Regions from separate parts of the Homo sapiens genome. Here region 1 is linked to region 2. Evidence: fine-mapped expression QTL. A gene starts in region 2. The other region holds a variant in brackets. All regions are shown on one strand. Distances are between the middles of the regions.

Region 1 (8,338 bases), 87 kb before region 2:
AATAAAATATTTATGAAACCACAATTCATAGCAGGATAATAAATAACAAAATTTGAACCAAGCCAACCACCTAGAAAGACATGATTCAAAGACAAACTGGCGTTTATGACAACTGCTCGTTTAATTTTCTCCTGTTCCCTATAATTTGCTTTTGTCTGATCTTAACACCCACATCTGATTTCTTAAGTCTCTGACCCTGACTTGAAACCTGTTAACTTGCTTCAGATTACCTGAGCCTCGGCTCCTCCCCGTAGATATGGTCTCAATAGACTCCAGTATCTCTGCAACTGCTGGCCTGCCCATTCCTAGGCATAGGGTAAATGGATCTCAAGGAGCTCCAGAAATCCAGCTGAGGTTGGGATGCAAGAAGGCAGAGTTAGCATAGAAAAGAAAAACAGCATCCCTTGTGCCTGAATCTGACACACAGTAAGTGCTCCATAAATGTATTAATTGGAAAAAGCATCTCCAACAAAGGTAAGCTTGGGAATGAGCAGAGCAACTCAGAGTTAAGAACAGGATCTGAAGCAAAGGTAAGAGTTAAATGGGCAAGAAGGCTGTAACTGGACAACTGAAGCTACAGCCAGCAGAGATGCCTCAGCCTTGCAGGGCATTATAAGTTTAGACATTTATTCTATATCCTATCTTATTTCACAAAGAATCTAAAAAGCAAAGTAAAAGTAGAGCATCCTATTATCCTTTTCTGAACCAAGTCTGAGAGGAAGTTGTCTAAGAAACTTTTGAACTCCACATTCCATGTTTTCTTTTTTTGGCTGCAATTTGGTAGGTAGCTGAAAAGAGGGGTACATTTGCCCTGTATGCCTGGGTTTATTTAACACATATATTTCTAAATATAGAGAATGCTTTTAAATATAGAAAATCATCCACACATAAACCCACAAAAGTTAGTGAACAACACATGAGCAGCTGTTTCTGTTTTTCAGTAATTGGTTTGCTTCTTGTTCACCGGTGTGCTTGTCTGTTATCACTTTGAGGTAGGCAAACAGTAATTGTAATTAACATTTAAAAATTAGGAATTAGGCCAGGCGCAGTGGCTCATGCTCGTAATTCCAGCACTTTGGGAGGTGGAGGCAGGCGGATCGCTTGAGCCCAGGACCAGCTGGGCATGGTGGTGTGTGCCTGGGTGACAGAGTGAGACCTTGGCTCAAGGGGGGGGGGGGAAGAAAGTAACTAAGATTTAAACCTTTTATTTTTCTTAGAATTGGAAAAAGACTGTCATAAAATTTTGAGGTAGAGTATGGCAAAGTAGCTCACAGTTTGAGAAAAATATGTTTGAATTTGGAAATTCCCACTGAAATTTCATTTTTAAAATGGGATTTGAGAATTAACTTTTTGATGTATTGTTGCCCATTTTCAAGACATTTCAGCATTGGTCCAGGTGGGAACTATTCCATGCCCCCTGCTATGGTCTGAGCAGTTGTGCCCCCCAAAAATTCATGTTGAAACCCAATTACCAATAATATTACCAGTGATATTAAGAGGTGGAACCTTTGAAAAATGATTAGATCATGACAGTAGAGCTCTCATGAATGGGATTAGCGTCATTACAAAAGAGGCCCCAGAAAGTTGTCTTGTCCCTTTCACCATGTGAAGACACAGCTAGAAGTCACCATCTATGAACCAGTAAATGAACACTGAATCTGCCAGAATCTTGACCTTGGACTTCCTAGCTCCGAAGTGAGAAATAAATTTCTGTTGTTTATAAGCTACCTAGTCTAGTTTATCTTGTTATAGCAGCCCGAATGGACTAAGACACCCGTCTGCCTTTTGGGTTAACTTATAATTAACAATAATAACGTATTAAACACAACTATGTGTTACTCAATATAGTTTTCTTGTTTGATCTTAACAGACCTATGTATTATTCATAATGCTTAACATTAATAAGCATTGCTCTTTTATTCTATGAAGTAGAAAAAAATAAGTGCTTAAAAGTTCAATAACTTGCCCACGGTTGTGTGCCTACTAAGTGGCTGAACCAGGAATCCAGCCTGAAATCCTCAGACTCTCCGTTGATCTCTTTTGGCACGGTGCTTAGCTATTAACCAGGGAGATCAACCCACTGCATTATAAATAGGCCTTTATGCTCCTTTTCCTTTCCTTTCTCTCTTCCTTCCTTCCACTATTTCTGCTTGACATTACTCTCAGGTATCCAAAAATAAATTATTTCATTGCCACCTGTTACTAAGAGGAACAGAGCCCAAGGTTTATGCTAATCAGCCAATCTTAAAAGAATGGAAAATACATGCCTTAAAAGTCCTGCTACCGAATTACAAGTTGGTTGTGTGTATATTAAGCAGACATTACTGTTCAGGCAGTAAATATAGCAATATATTATTCAGTTTCACAAAGGAATAAAGTATTTCAAGTTTGCTGTGACACTTGAAGTCTCTGCACCCCTGAAATTAAGCATCTGAACTTTTAATTAAAAAATAAACAATACTGTATATTTTTCTATTTTCAAGTTGTCATTACCAATGGCATTGTAAACCACACCCTATTAGTATTGCTTTTAGCACTGCTTCAGCTTTCCTAACTTACTACACCAACAGCTTTTGTCAATTTTCAAGGTGATTTATCCCTTTTTCTTTATTATTGTCTTTTTCATGTGGCTGAAATTTCTAGAAGTACAAGAAGCAAACTATATTAAAAATTGAAAAACACAATGACATTTTCTAATTGCATTATCCTTTTTTTTGAGACAAGAGACTCGCTCTGTTGCCGAGGCTGGAGTGCAGTGGCGTGATCTCAGCTCACTGCAAACTCCACCTCCTGGGTTCAAGCAATTCTGCCTCAGCCTCCCGAGTAGCTGGGACTACAGGCGCACGCCACCACGCCCGGCTAATTTTTGTATTTTTAGTAGAGATGGGGTTTCACCATGTTGGCCAGGCTGGTCTTGAACTCCTGACCTCGTGATCCACCCACCTCAGCCTCCCAAAGCTCCGGGGTTACAGGCGTGAGCCACCTCGCCTGGCCTGCATTATCCCCTTTTATACGATATCATCCTGATGCTTTCTAATGCGAATTTTTCAGGTAATTGAAGTGTATCTTTACTTTGGATAGAAAACATCCTTTGACAATTCCTTACTGTCTTATTTGACAGAGTAGCATAAATTCTTTGATTCAGTCAGTGTTATGAACACATTATTTTACAAAGTTGTAACACAACTATGCCTTTAGGACCTTGCTGTACAAGGTTCTCTGTCCAAACACCTTGTAGCCCCTGCTTACTACCTAAAACCTAGAGTCTTTGGAGTCTTCTGTCAGTGGGCCAGCGTACTTCTCTTGCTGCCTAACATCCTACCTCCGCCACCCTGGGCCAAACCCTCGCTTTGCTATGTCTATATCTGGTGTGAGTCTGGAAATGTGTTAGCTGAAGTTGTTACAATAATGTATTCATTATGTTACTAAAGGTCTTCATGAGATTTGCAGGGCTCTCCCAGGAGGAAGACAGTTTCTGCTTGTAGTCTTTGTGGCATCTATGTGGCCTATATTGCTTCTCAGTGATTCTGTGAGCTTAAATAATATTTTAATTATGTTTTTCGTTTTCAGGTCTTCCTATAATTTCCTAACATTGATTGCTTAAAATATTTAAGTAAAAAGTGTCTCTAAATCAAATTTTAATTTCCATAAATGTCTAGAGCAATGGCTACAAATTAACATGCAATTTGAATTGGAGTTCTTTGGCGGTATGTTCAGAGAAATGGTGACCAGATCTCAATACGAGGAATTACGAACGGTGGCCAATGTGTTCTCCAGTGAGAAGCATTTAACTCTCCAGTGTTCATGATAAGTAGGTTGATAGTTCAAATAATTTATTGCTGCTTTATAGTATACATAATTAAATGAAACATGTTAAACTCAAGGGAATTTTTAATAGGTTACTTGCAATTGTTATTGCAGGCAACAACTTGTACATGATTTTATTTCCAAATCCACAAAAAACAAATTTTATACAAATCAGCACTGTAAAAATGTCAATTACAGCCCCAGAGGCTTTGCTGGCAGAATAATTGTCTAAATTCTAGAATATGGGAAACAGGTTTTTTTCTGGATTCATCTTTTTTTTTCATTTTTTTTTTTTTA[C/A]AAAAAAAATTTACAAGTGAAATGTTACTACAAAACTTTTTATAAGGAATTTTTGCAAAACATTTACATTTTACCATCAACTATTTCTGTTTTAAAATCATTATGTAGATTTAATACCCTATGCTGCACATCAATTTATGTGGGATGACAACTTAGTGACATGCATAAAAAAACACCACAAGGCATTAAAATGGAGACTTAAATACAAATATTGTTGCAATAAAACAGTTATAAAATTGAAAAATAGGACCTAAACATCATGCTTATCTAAGTTTGACAAATTAACTTTTTCTCCTAGATTACACACTTTTATTACTGCTCTCATGAGAGTGTGATAAATGACTTAACATCAAGTTCTAATGTAATCAGCAACACATACACAAACCTAACCAAAGAAAGTATACTGTAAGAAAAAACTATTCTAACACTGGAGTTTTACCATGATAAATACATAGCTTTGCACTGATAATTACAATAAAGAAAAGTTTTATAACGGTGGTAAAGGGAATGAACAGTGAAATGCCATTAAACAAGACTCTACTGCACATCTGTGCCCTATTACTTATAACAGCTATATCCCACTGAGTCAAATAAAGGACACTGAAATTTACGATTCTTCTAAAGACAGAAAAGTAGACTCAGAATGGTATGCAGAACAGACTGTCAAAATATTTCTAATTTCAGTGGTGAAATGTGCACCTGCTAACACAAATTAACATATTTTATATGCTATAAAGCTATCTAGATTCATCTGATAAATTTATAATAGGCCTCATTGTTGATTAAAAAATAACTTCCATTTCTAATGGACATACATAGGTTTGCATTAGAACTGGTTCATGGAATAATGATGCAGAGTGTTCATACTTGGTATTAACAACAACAAAAAGTGTCACTCTGAGGAAACATGATTAAAACATTAAGAAAGTTTCTTTGCATAAAAAAATTTATAGCACTGATTGTGTAGCATAATGATAGATAAAATATATATTTGATGTTTCAGCTCCTATATAATAAAATTAAAATGAACACTACCAAATGCTCCTCTGTACCAAACAAAACAACAAACCAATTCTGATGTTTTAAAGCCAGATACATCAGTTGTTAAGAGTACATTAAATAAAATATACAAAACAATTTACAAAATCCAACTTAAATTTAAAGACTCTGTTACAAGTCTACAAAAGCTTTAAGAAACTTGAAATTTATAACCACAGTGTAAAAATTTTTTTTTTCCTTTAATCTCAAAGCTTTTTTATACAAACTGAAAGCACAAAAGACCTTCAGTTTTATATAACGCTACAAAGGGCTGGCCTAAAGTGTACATAGTGTAAACAGTGATCATTACAGTATTTCTCCTTCATCAAAAATACAAGAAACATCACAATTTTGGAAGAGAATTCGCATTAGTACTTTTCCTGAAATTATAGAGAATGCACAAGAAAACACGTACCTATATTCAAACAGTCCCCAAAGCAATGATGTTAATAAATTGAGCAGGTAGGTAAAAACTTTTAGTTTTCAAATGGTCAATTTCACTGATTATGATTCTGTGTAAATACTTTTTTAAAACATAAAATATCCTTATTAATATTTAAGTTACTGGTTTATAATCCAATTTTTTTCATATGAAACTTTTGGCCATCTTTCCTAGTAAGACCCTTTCCTAGCCGGGCATGGTGGCTCATGCCTGTAATCCCAGCACTCTGGGAGGCCGAGGTGGGCAGATCACCTGAGGTCAGGAGTTTGAAACCAGCCTGGCCAACATGGCGAAACCCTGTCTCTACTAAAAATACAAAAATTAGCCAGGCATGGTGGCAGGCGCCTGTTAATCCCAGCTACTCAGGAGGCTAAGACAGGAGAATCGCTTGAACCTGGGAGGCGGCGGTTGCAGTAAGCTGAGATCGTGCCATTGCACTCCAGCCTGGGCAAGAGAGCGAGACTCCATCTCAAAAAAAAAAAAAAAAAGACCCTTTCCTGTAAGACCCTTGCATAAACAATAATATAGTTTTTTTCTTTAGTCACTTACTTCACTGAAAATTATTCTGCCTTTTCAAAAATAAAAGTTTTGCTTCATAATATATCTATTATATATTAGGCTAATTTTTAGGGAAAATTCAGTTATTGATGTAACATAAAAACATTACTGTGTTATAATTCCTAATTACCTTCTTACATAGCACTAGAAATAAAATGGGACTGGCCAATTTTTAGTAGAGGAAAACAAGAATTACAATGTAGTTAAAAGAGAATTTTCTGCTGGCCTTGGAAAAAAGTGTAATTCTTTCTTTGGCTACCACATCAAAGCATAAAGAATTCTGCACATTGTCAACATAACTCATATTTACAAAATATGAAACTACAGAACAATTTACACTCTATGCAAATATTTCCAAATATAAACATTTTAAATGAAATTTTGTGGTTCAACCTAGGGTTAGGAATATAATCAATCCTAACTTTAGAACATTGCATGTTAAGATGCCTCATTTTATTTTTCTGAAGCTATGATGAGTTTTGTTTTAACCATTTTTTTCCCAGCATTTTCCTAAGGTGTCAACCTAAAATTTAACCTAAGATTTAACTCTATGTTCCTCTTGTGTCTCCAAATGGAGAAAGTAATTGGACTTCACTGATTGTCTGCATACACACTACTATAATGTAGTGGTAATAAAGATCTGAGATGCATCTCAGATTACTGTTTTGGAACTTACCTAATTCAACTGTTGAAGAATTTCTAACATTTAGAAAAGACGGCCAAACTATTTTCGGTTGATTTTCCAAAAATCAAGCTAAGGAAATACAGTATTATCCCTATCATCAGTTAACTATCTGTTTTCTGTGCTATAGAGAAAAAGAATACACGTAAATTATTACTGACTGAATTTATAACAAAGTACTTTCAAAGAAAATAAGTCCAATTAAGGTCCAGCCTGCAAACTACTAAGGTCTTTTTAAACATGTTAACACATGATATTAAGAGATGGGAAGATTCTGTATAAAGGTTATGTGATATATTTCCAAACAACTACAACTTATAGTATGGAGGAAATACTTTTCTGTTTCCAGTACATCAGTCTGCTTTTTGTATTTTTTAAAATTCAACACTTCACGTGTTGACCCCAAACCCTGGAATACTTAAAGAAGCCAAGAATGAAAACATAATTTCCTACTCTGTAATCCACTTGACCAGCCCATTTCCAGATTTTCAAAGGTGTGTAAACAAGTGCAGCACTAGAGGTCTCTGTTATAAATAACTTTTCAGAATTCTTCCATGTTGGTTGAAACATTGGGAGTTGCTGGATTCGAATCTTGAGAAATGGCTGCAACTGTGACAATTCTTGGGGAGCCAAGCACCTCTGTAACAGATGAGTCCAGTTCTCCCGAGGTAACAATGGCAAGAGCTGTCCCACCACCTTTTTTATTCTGGTGCGTTTTGACATGTTTGGAGAGATGATCACTCCGCATAAACCTTTTAGAACATTCCGGGCATTCAAATCTCTTTTCACCTACATAGAAAAACAGTAAATGGCGTTATACACATTTTGCTTAAGTGAAATTATAATTTTTAATAATCTCCCTTCTGGTCACATTATATGACTTTTTGTACAGTTTCACTAGTTGCAAAATGCTTTGTTTTATTTAAAAACGTTATCAAATACACAATGCAAAGAGAAAGACCATGTGATTGAGACGAAAAGACCTGAAGTTTAAGTCCTGCTTCTGCTATGAACTGGAAATAAAAGCTGGAGCAAGTAAATAGCCACTGGAACTCTCAGTTTTCCCATCTACAAAGCAAGAGGGTTTTTAGCAGACAATTTAAAATATCTCTATCAGATGTAACAAATATATATAATGTTCAAGGCTCATGTCCACTCTTCTTCAAAACTGCTAACCTGGGTTTTAGTTTTAATCTTGGAGGCATGAAATATCTTGGAACTATTTCAAATAAACTAAGTTAATAATTTAATAGCATACTGAGTTCTTTACAAGGCAAAAATGGGAGGCAGGCACATGCTACATTCAGAATTTAATAAAGTTTTTAGGTTTCATAAGATAACAGTTTCTGTTGTCCAAAGCAATTCTTAAATATGTTTTCTTCAAAATATAAGATAGTTTTACTGGACCGACTTCTTTGTTTTGGAATAAAAGCTAGTTTAATGTTAACTAAAAACAAAAAGGCCTTTTTGTTTTTGTGTATAATAAATGAGGCATATCAAAATTTGGTTAACTG
Region 2 (8,338 bases):
AGTTTAAAACCAGTGTAATAAAACACAAAAGCATGGGCGACAAGATGCTGAAGCTTGAGAAATAACTTCCACTAAAAAAAAGTTAGCCTTATTACACCACAGAATTAAAAGTTCAACAGACTCACAATTATATATACCAATTCAGTTTAAAACTACTTTCCCTCAAAGAAGAGATAAATATCATTTCGACTAGGGTTCTTTCTGAAGAGCTGGAATGTACTCAAATAAGACCACTAAATTACAGAAGGCAATTATGATTCTAATCAGAAAGCTCTGTCCCATAAAACAATACTTTTTAAAAAACTAACAAATTTAACACATTATTATAAAATCTACAAAAGTGAACATGTCACATTGATTACTACAGAGCTATGTTTGTTAGTATAATATTGCTATTTCTGGTTCCTTATGATTGTGTGTTTACTTCAGAGGTCTACGTCAAACCTTAGAATTAGGAGAGAAAAGCAATAATTGTTATGAAAAACTATTTAAAAGGTACTTAAAAAGATGTCAGAACTTACCTGCAACACTAGTGATTGTAACGGGAACTCCCTGCACTTGAACACCTGCAGCACCCAGGTTGGCAACGCTCACTGTCTGAAGGTTAGGCACTGATGCAAGCTGGGCAGTATTCAAAGTTATTGGGGCACCAGCAACAGCCACAGGAGCAATCTGAGCAAGAGTTGTGCCACCACTTGAAGACACTGGGGTGATGGTTAATTGTTGGGATAACCCAGCATTCTGAACTTGCAAATTTGAAAGACTCTGAATATTCTGAACCTGTACAGTTTGCCAACTGATTTGCCCTGAAGGTGTTAAAGTTGGAGCCCTGATAAGCACCTGAGTCGGATTTACTGCTTGAAGTTGAACATTCTGTAAAGGCTGCTGCTGGATGGTCTGAATCGTCTGCCCTGACTGGAGTTGAAACGACTGTGGTGGAATAGCCTGAATGATCTGTTGCTGAGGCTGTTGGATCTGGATCTGCTGTAAGATAGGTTGGCCTACAATTTGCACCTGCTGAAGAGAATTTGATTGATCCTGTGCATTCTGCATTCCATTAGGCTGAAGCTGACTGGAGCTCTGGGCTTCAGACTCAGTAGCAGCAGGTGTTTGAGATTCTTCAATGGTGCGTTCAGAACTACTGGCTGATGTGCTTGCATACTGGCCAGTATCTGCTGAGCTCACTAATGTGTCACTGCTTGTCAAAGACGTTGAAGCAGTGGTTGTGCAGGTAGTGGAGGAGGAGGGAGATTCTGGCATAGTACTGGCAGAAGTAGTGGTGTTGGTGGGTGTGGAAACTAATTGATTCCCATTGGAAGTCCCACTATCAGCAGTAGCAGCAGGCTGGCCAACCTGCCCAGTCCCTCCTCCGGCAGCCACGTTGTTTATCACTGGCAAAGCTAGAGTCACTCCTCCAATGTTAATTGGTAGGGTTGTTACAACTTGAGCCTGAGTACCAGGAAGAGTCTGTAACTGCAGTGGTATTGAAACACCAGGTCTAATTTGGACCGGAACTGTCTGATTTGCCAGGTTTTGAGCAAGAATATTCCCAGAAGCTGTCCTGTTAGCAGCTGTGAGTATAGCTTGATTATTACCTGCAGAAATGAGCTGAATTTGACCCTGCAAATCCTGTAGAGATGAACTACTAGTTGGATTGATTTGAATTTGTTGACCTTCCACTGTCTGAAGTTGTGGAATTACTTGGTACTGTACACTACCACTTGGATTTTGTACTTGTATGACTTGAAATTGACCAGGGGTGGAAGAATTACCTGATTTAGTTTTTGTAGGAGATGCACTCCCGTTATTACTGCTGGAAGAACTAGACGAACTAGAGGCTGGTTGAGAAACGTTATTCTCTTTTGAAGCAGGAGGAGTGGAGGCAACAAGTTGCCAAGCGTTTCCAGCAAGTTGCGTTGTTACCAGTTCTAGCTGTTGTGGTTGATTTTGAAGTTGCACCAATCCTTGACTTGGATCTATAATAATTTGTTGTTGTCCAGTTGCTTGATTTTCACCAGGAGTCCCTATTTTGCTGCAAGTAGCTGCCAGTAAAGCCAGAGGAGAGGGCTGAGAGTCCTACCCAAAATGGGACGGTAAAGGAGAGGGGGGGGGGAAAAAAAGTGGGCGGATTTAGTGGAGGCCAGTAGTTGCCAGGGGGTTACTTATTTTGACAGCTCTACATAACAATTTAGGAAGCAGCAGAAATCAAAAAGAAATACGAACAAAAGTAGATAAGAACTATATGAATAAGGAAGCAAGTCCTATAATATCAAGTTTAAATAAAAGGAAATTTCTTTACAACTTTGTAAAGTGTTATGTTCCTAAACTCAAAATGCCCTTGGGAACACACACACCGTTTTCTTATAGTCTGAATTCCTGATGTAATTTTAAACAGCGTTATACCCTCAAAGAGGTGAAAACTTGATGAATTTACAATTTAAGTTCCACACTCTCAGAAAGATGCTTTGAGTGGATAAACATTTTATTCTGTTACTTCTGGACATTCAAAGGGCATAACTCCCTCTCTCTCCTAATGTGTCGTGATGAATTTTTTTAATTTGTTTGCTTTTACCTGGGAGCCTGAGGTTTTGGGTTTTTTATTGTTATTCTCTGGCTCAGAGGTTTTCCCTCCTTCTGTAGCCATCGCCGCTGCCGCTGCCGCCTCCTCCTCCTCCTCCTTCTTCTGATCTGCAACAAACCCCCCCACCACACACACACGACAACAGGTTATTAGGATTATTATTATTCGTCTTCTTCCTCTCCTCTTCTCCCCCCTCCCCCCGAACATTAATCTCCATAAACCCGCGATCCACGCACACCGGCAGGGGGTGGGGGAGAAGGAGGGAAGGGAGGAGGGGGATATCACAAAACGTGGTTTGAAACCCGACCCATCGGCTCCAGAGCAACACCCAGAAGGAGGTTGTTCTCTCTCAGACATTAAGACAAAACACAACCCTCCTTCCCTCCCCGATTCCCTCCCGCCCTCTCCTCCTCCCCTTAAAGCATCTCAGCGGCCCCGGGGGAGGGGGGAGAACCGAGCAGGGTCTGGGGAGGGAGGGAGAGAGGGAGGCGGCGAAGGAGACTGAGGGGGGTGGAGAATACGTACCGCTCATCCCGCATTAACAGGACAAACCCTCAGACGGAGACACTGGGATAGAGGTGGGTGGGGGTGGGGGCGAGGCGGGAGGAGAGGCCGGTCCCGCCCGCCCGCGGTGGCTCGGAGGAGGCTGTAGCTGGCACAGGCTCTGCCTCTTTTTCCGCGAATGGCCGCCGCTGGGCTGTGGCGTAGCAGCTCCTCTCTCCGCCCGAGCCCGGCTGACTCGCCCTTGATTGACAGCGGCGGCGCGCGGCGCGGGCGGCGGCGCGGGTCGGGGGCGGGGCCAGGGCGGTGCGAGCCTGGCCGACTCCCCACCCCCCTCGGCCTCTCTCCGCCGGAGCCTCCGACTCTCCACCCCTTCCCCCAGCGGATTGGCCGCCGACCTGCCGGGGGCCGGGGCGCTGGGGCCGCCTCCTCTCCACCCCCTTTCTCGGGGTTATTCCTTTAGCAGCTCTTCTCCTCCTCCCTGGCTCCTCTGGCGCTCTTTCTCTCGGCGTTCTAGCTCAGGAGCGCTGCCGGTAGGCCCTCCATACAGCCAAACTTGTTGTCTCAGGATATCCCGCCCCCTACTCATTTCCCAGCGCCCTCCACTCAAAAACCCCCTCCAGCAATCCCTCCAATTGCCACTAAAGAAAAAAGTAGGGCCCTTGATCCAGGCAAGCGAGAGCGGCGGACGTGGGCGCGCGCGGACCACCAACAGGTCGGCGCGCTGGGTGAACTGCCCGCTGCCCCCGCGCAGGGAGCATGGCTTTCCTGAGGCGCATCCGGACCCGGGCGCCCTTTTTCCCTGGCTCTGTCTCCATTGGCTGAGCCCAGGGTGACGCGCGCTGAGTGGTGGGAGAAAGGGGGTGGGGCACTACCGCGAAGGCTGTCGGTACTCGTAGTTTCCGGCGGTCGCGGTGCCTTCTTCGAGGCACCGCCTCTCTCCCGCCCCCGACCGAGGCCTGGCTGCCGAGCGGAAAGCTGCCCGAGGGGGCGGTGGCGGCAGGGCGTGGCCGGGGCCGAGTGGGAGTTGAACTGAGCGAGGAGGAGGGGGAATGGGTGTTGTTTGCCTGGGCCTATCCGCCGCGCGGGGCTGCCCAAACCACCTCTGCCGCCGCCTCCTCGGCTCCAAGCCGCTCCCCGCGGGGCGAGCTCACACCCGGAGCGCTCGGCGATTGAGCGGGCGGCGGCGTGGGGAGGCGGGGTTTGCTGTCCTCGGGGTTTGAATGAACCCGGCTTCTTGAAGCAGCGCCCTCGCCTTGCCTTTCTTTGCTCACCTTCCCCTCAGGCCCCCTGCTTTGAGTCCGAGGCCTGTTTTCTCACGGAGAAGGATCTTCCATTTTTATTTGTTGTCTCTCTGGCTGGCAGCTGGTGCAGAGCAGTGACCCGCCTTCTAAGAAGGGTTGCATCGCGTTTTGCCTAAAAGCCTAAGTGGTTGGCGGAGTTCTAAGCCTTATCTGACAAGAGTCTCCGGGCGAAGAAAAGCCCAGCTCCATAAGGGTCAGCCCCGCTTACGGTGTAGCGTAAGCAAGCGTAAGGGCAAGTGGAATTAACATCTGGCTGCACAAAGCATCTTACTGTCAAATGCACTTGAGCAGTGTCCTGCCTCAGCTTTCCTACAAAGTCCTGAAGTCAGGATGATGCCATGGAACGTAATCAGCGCCTGATTAACTGTACCAAAGGTGGAAGTGACCCCACATGTAAATACTGGCCTTGGGAACAAGGCATGCTTACACCCCAGGCTCAAAGCCATTGTCTCACTTCTTACCTGGGCTTCACACTCAGCCTTGGGCATTTTTGTCTCCTGCCTGAGGCCTGACATGTTGCAATGGTGAGGAGGTCCCAGATGCTGAACTTGACTGGCATTTCCTTTGCTTGTTAAGGTAATTGCAAAATCAGCTGATGACAAAGCCATGCAGCAAGACAAAGCAATTCGAATAAAGAATTACATGGTATTGTCTACCCCATCTTATACAATGAGCCAGAGATCCCTGAACAACGTGCTTTTTCCCCATCGTGTACAATATAGAAAGCTCAAAAGTGCTTCTTACATTTACGTATATACTGTCTCTATCCTCAGGTCCCCTCCTCCTCCCAGTTCACCAAGATAAATGAAGACATTTTGCAGTCTTATGAATTGGGGCTTTCATTGTCGTTTTCGTTTGGAAAACCTGCTTCAGAGAGGCAATGTCACTGACTCTGAACCATAGATTAAAAATAATGCTTCGGGAGGCCGAGGCGGGTGGATCAGGGGGTCAGGAGTTTGCGACCAGTCTGGCCAACATAGTGAAACCTTGTCTCTACTAAAAATACAAAAAATTAGCCAGGTGTGGTGGTGTGCGCCTGTAATCCCAGCTACTCGCGAGGCTGAGGCAGGAGAATCGCGTGAACCCGGGAGGTGGAGGTTGCAGTGAGCTGAGATCACGCCATTGCACTCCAACCCCGGGCGACAGTGCAAGACTCCGTCTCAAAAAATATATAATAATAATAATAATGCTTACCATCAGTATGAATCTGCAAAGTCCTAAATATTCTCCACCCTATAGATAAGTGGGAATACTGGTATCCATGAAACATAAGTCCTGCTTTTTATGGTGGACCAAAGTCTTCTAGTCCCTGGCTGTTATGGACTGAATGTTTGTGTTCTCTGCCCCCTTCCCCATTCATGTGTTGAAATTCTACACGGGGCGCGGCTCACTCCTGTTATCCCAGCTCTTTGGGAGGCCAAGGCGGGCGGATCACTTGAGCCCAGCAGTTCCAGACCAGTTTAGGCAACATGGTGAAACCCAGGCTCTACAAAAATTAGCCGACGTGGTGGCGCTGTCCTGTAGTCCCAGCTTCTTGTGAGGCTGAGGCGGGAGGATCACTTGAGCCCAGAAGGCGGAGGTTGCATTGGGCCAAGATGGCACCAGTGCACTCCAACCTGGGCAACAGAGTGGGACTGTGTCAAAAAAAAAAAAAAAAAAAAGAAAGAAAAAAAAAGGGAGAGAGGGGAAAGGGAGGGAGGAAGGAAGGAAGGAAAAATTCTACCCCTTAGTGTGATGGTATTAGAAATTAGAAGGTAGGGTCTCTGGGAGATAATTAGGATTAAATTTGGAGTCCTCATGAATGAGATTGGTGACCTTAGAAGAATCAGGAAAGAGCTTGCTTTTCCTTCCTCTGCTCTCTTCTATTTGAAGATAACAACCAAAAGTCCTCAGTGTGATACCCGGTGGAAAGCGAGTTTTGCTAGGGAGGTAATATTGACAAAGACTCTCTCCTTTGACCAAACTTTAATCTGGTTATTCTAAGTCCTCTTTCTGACTAGGTCCTGACCTGGAACTCTGTCCTTAGTTTAGTGGCTTTGTTCATTTAGTCCAGTTTTAGCAAGAATCCTGCTGGGTTGGTTGGGTAAAAACGCCTCACCCTTAATATTTGACCATACTTGGTATCTCATCAAATTCCTTATCCCCTGTTCTCGATATCTTAGCACCCTGGCCTGCCTTCAGCAATAACCCCATTAAATTGGTTTAGCCAGAATCCTCCTTTATTCTGGAAATTTCCCCTTAGTAATTTTCCATCCACTGACTCCATCCTGCTCCTTGGCTTCAGATCTCTAGTTGTCTTTGTATTCATAGTTGAGCCCAATCTCTCTCTCCCACTGCAAGACCCCATTGGATAGTCTCTCCTTGACTAAAGTCTTTATTGCTGTCTTTAACAAGTATCCTGAATTATTTTTTTCTTCAACATTGTAAATATAAATTCAACAAAATACTCGGCCTCAGGCCTGCGAGGGTGGTCTTTTCCCTGAGGAAGCAGTCTAAAAACATTCCTTCCTATGCTCATTATTGCCTAGAAAACAGTGGCTTTCAAACTTTTAAAAAAATTATGACCCACAGAAATAAATATATTTTACATCATGGCTGGCCCAGTGTGTACTTTTTAAAAATTTATGACCCTGGGCCAGGCGCGGTGGCTTATGCCTGTAATCCCGGCACTTTGGGAGCCCAAGGTGGGCAAATCGCTTGAGTTCAGGAGTTCAAGACTAGCCTGGGTGAATCACTTGAGGTCAGGAGTTAAAGACCAGCCTGGCCAACATAGTGAAGTCCCATCTCTACTAAAAATACAAAAATTAGCCAGCCGTGGTGGCAAGTGCCTCGGGAGGCTGAGGCAGGAGAATCCCTTGAACCTGGGAGTCAGGGGCTGCAGTGAGCCGGGTGCTATAGTGAGCCGGGTGCTATAGTGAGCCGAGATCATGCCACTGCACTCCAGCCTGGGCGACAGAACAAGACTCCGTCTCAAAAAATAAAAAAAGGAATAAGTATATTTTACATATGGCCCAGTGTGTACACACACAGAGGAAATCAGCATTTGTATGTGAAATATTTAATGACACTAAGCACTGACCATTCAGCTCAAACACGTCCATAAAGCTGAAATAGTGTCCTAGAGGTAGAAGTCCTCTGCCACGAATTATCCTTGTAGTTGTGGAATTGAGAGATCCAGAGGGTTGGGGAACAATGAGGGGACTTGCCAAGGAGGGGACTTGGACACTAGTTCATGGCATAAATGAGAAAAAGGGACTGTATTTGAGTGTCTCTTTTAGGAAGTTTCTTTTTTTTTTTTTTTTTTGAGACGAAGTCTTGTTCTTGTTCCCCAGGCTGGAGTGCAATGGTGTGATCTTGGCTCACTGCAACCTCCGCCTCCCAGGTTCAAGTGATTCTCCTGCCTCAGTCTCCCAAGTAGCTGGGATTATAGGTGGCTGCCACCATGCCTGGCTAATTTTTGTGTTTTTAGAGAGATGGGGTTTCACCATGTTGGTCAGGCTGGTCTCGATCTCCTGACCTCACGTGATCCACCAGCTTCGGCCTCCCGAAGTGCTGAGATTACAGGTGTGAGCCACTGCCCCCAGCCAGGAAGCTACTCTTTAAATAACTGTTAAGCTGCTTCATTTTTTTTTTCTTTTTTTTTTTTTCCTAGCACCCTCCGAAAGTTATACAAATCATTTTGTATTTGGGAAGCAGATAGCAAAGATTTGGAGAGACCATAAACCAGAGAATAGTCAAAGCTTAACGTCCACCTTTGCTCAAAAGTGTATTAACTGAGAGTATAGCCAACCAGAAATTAGACACAGGACTCAGTGAACGTATTTCACTTAGAACAAATAGCCTCCTTAGTACATCTGGACCATGCATAGTTGTTACCATAATAAGGCCCTGGTAGAATATAAAATCACATTAAAAATAAATTCCTTAGCCAACAATAATTGTTTTCAGGAAG

Direction of the effects. Alleles are on the strand shown, and positions count from the first base shown. SD is a standard deviation of normalised expression in the study named.
For the expression in CD4 T cells of the gene that starts at base 3,282 in region 2, C is the high allele of the variant in region 1 and A is the other (small effect, 0.39 SD a copy in Kasela 2017).

What was found.
Region 1: its variant is fine-mapped to the expression of SP4 in CD4 T cells (Kasela 2017, PIP 0.95). The same link has a PIP of 0.9 or more in NK cells.

What each region holds. Positions count from the first base shown.
Region 1 is chr7:21,510,297-21,518,634 of GRCh38, reverse strand. SP4 (Sp4 transcription factor) reads right to left here. Exons shown (of 6, transcript NM_003112.5): 6 at 3,813-7,613. The coding sequence ends at 7,366. Among named protein-coding and RNA genes, the nearest start is that of DNAH11, 29 kb to the left of the region's middle. The variant C/A (reference allele first, on the strand shown) is at 4,105.
Region 2 is chr7:21,423,027-21,431,364 of GRCh38, reverse strand. SP4 (Sp4 transcription factor) reads right to left here and starts at 3,282. Exons shown (of 6, transcript NM_003112.5): 1 at 3,107-3,282; 2 at 2,573-2,688; 3 at 522-2,076. The coding sequence starts at 3,113. RefSeq lists silencers at 2,989-3,578, 3,959-4,348.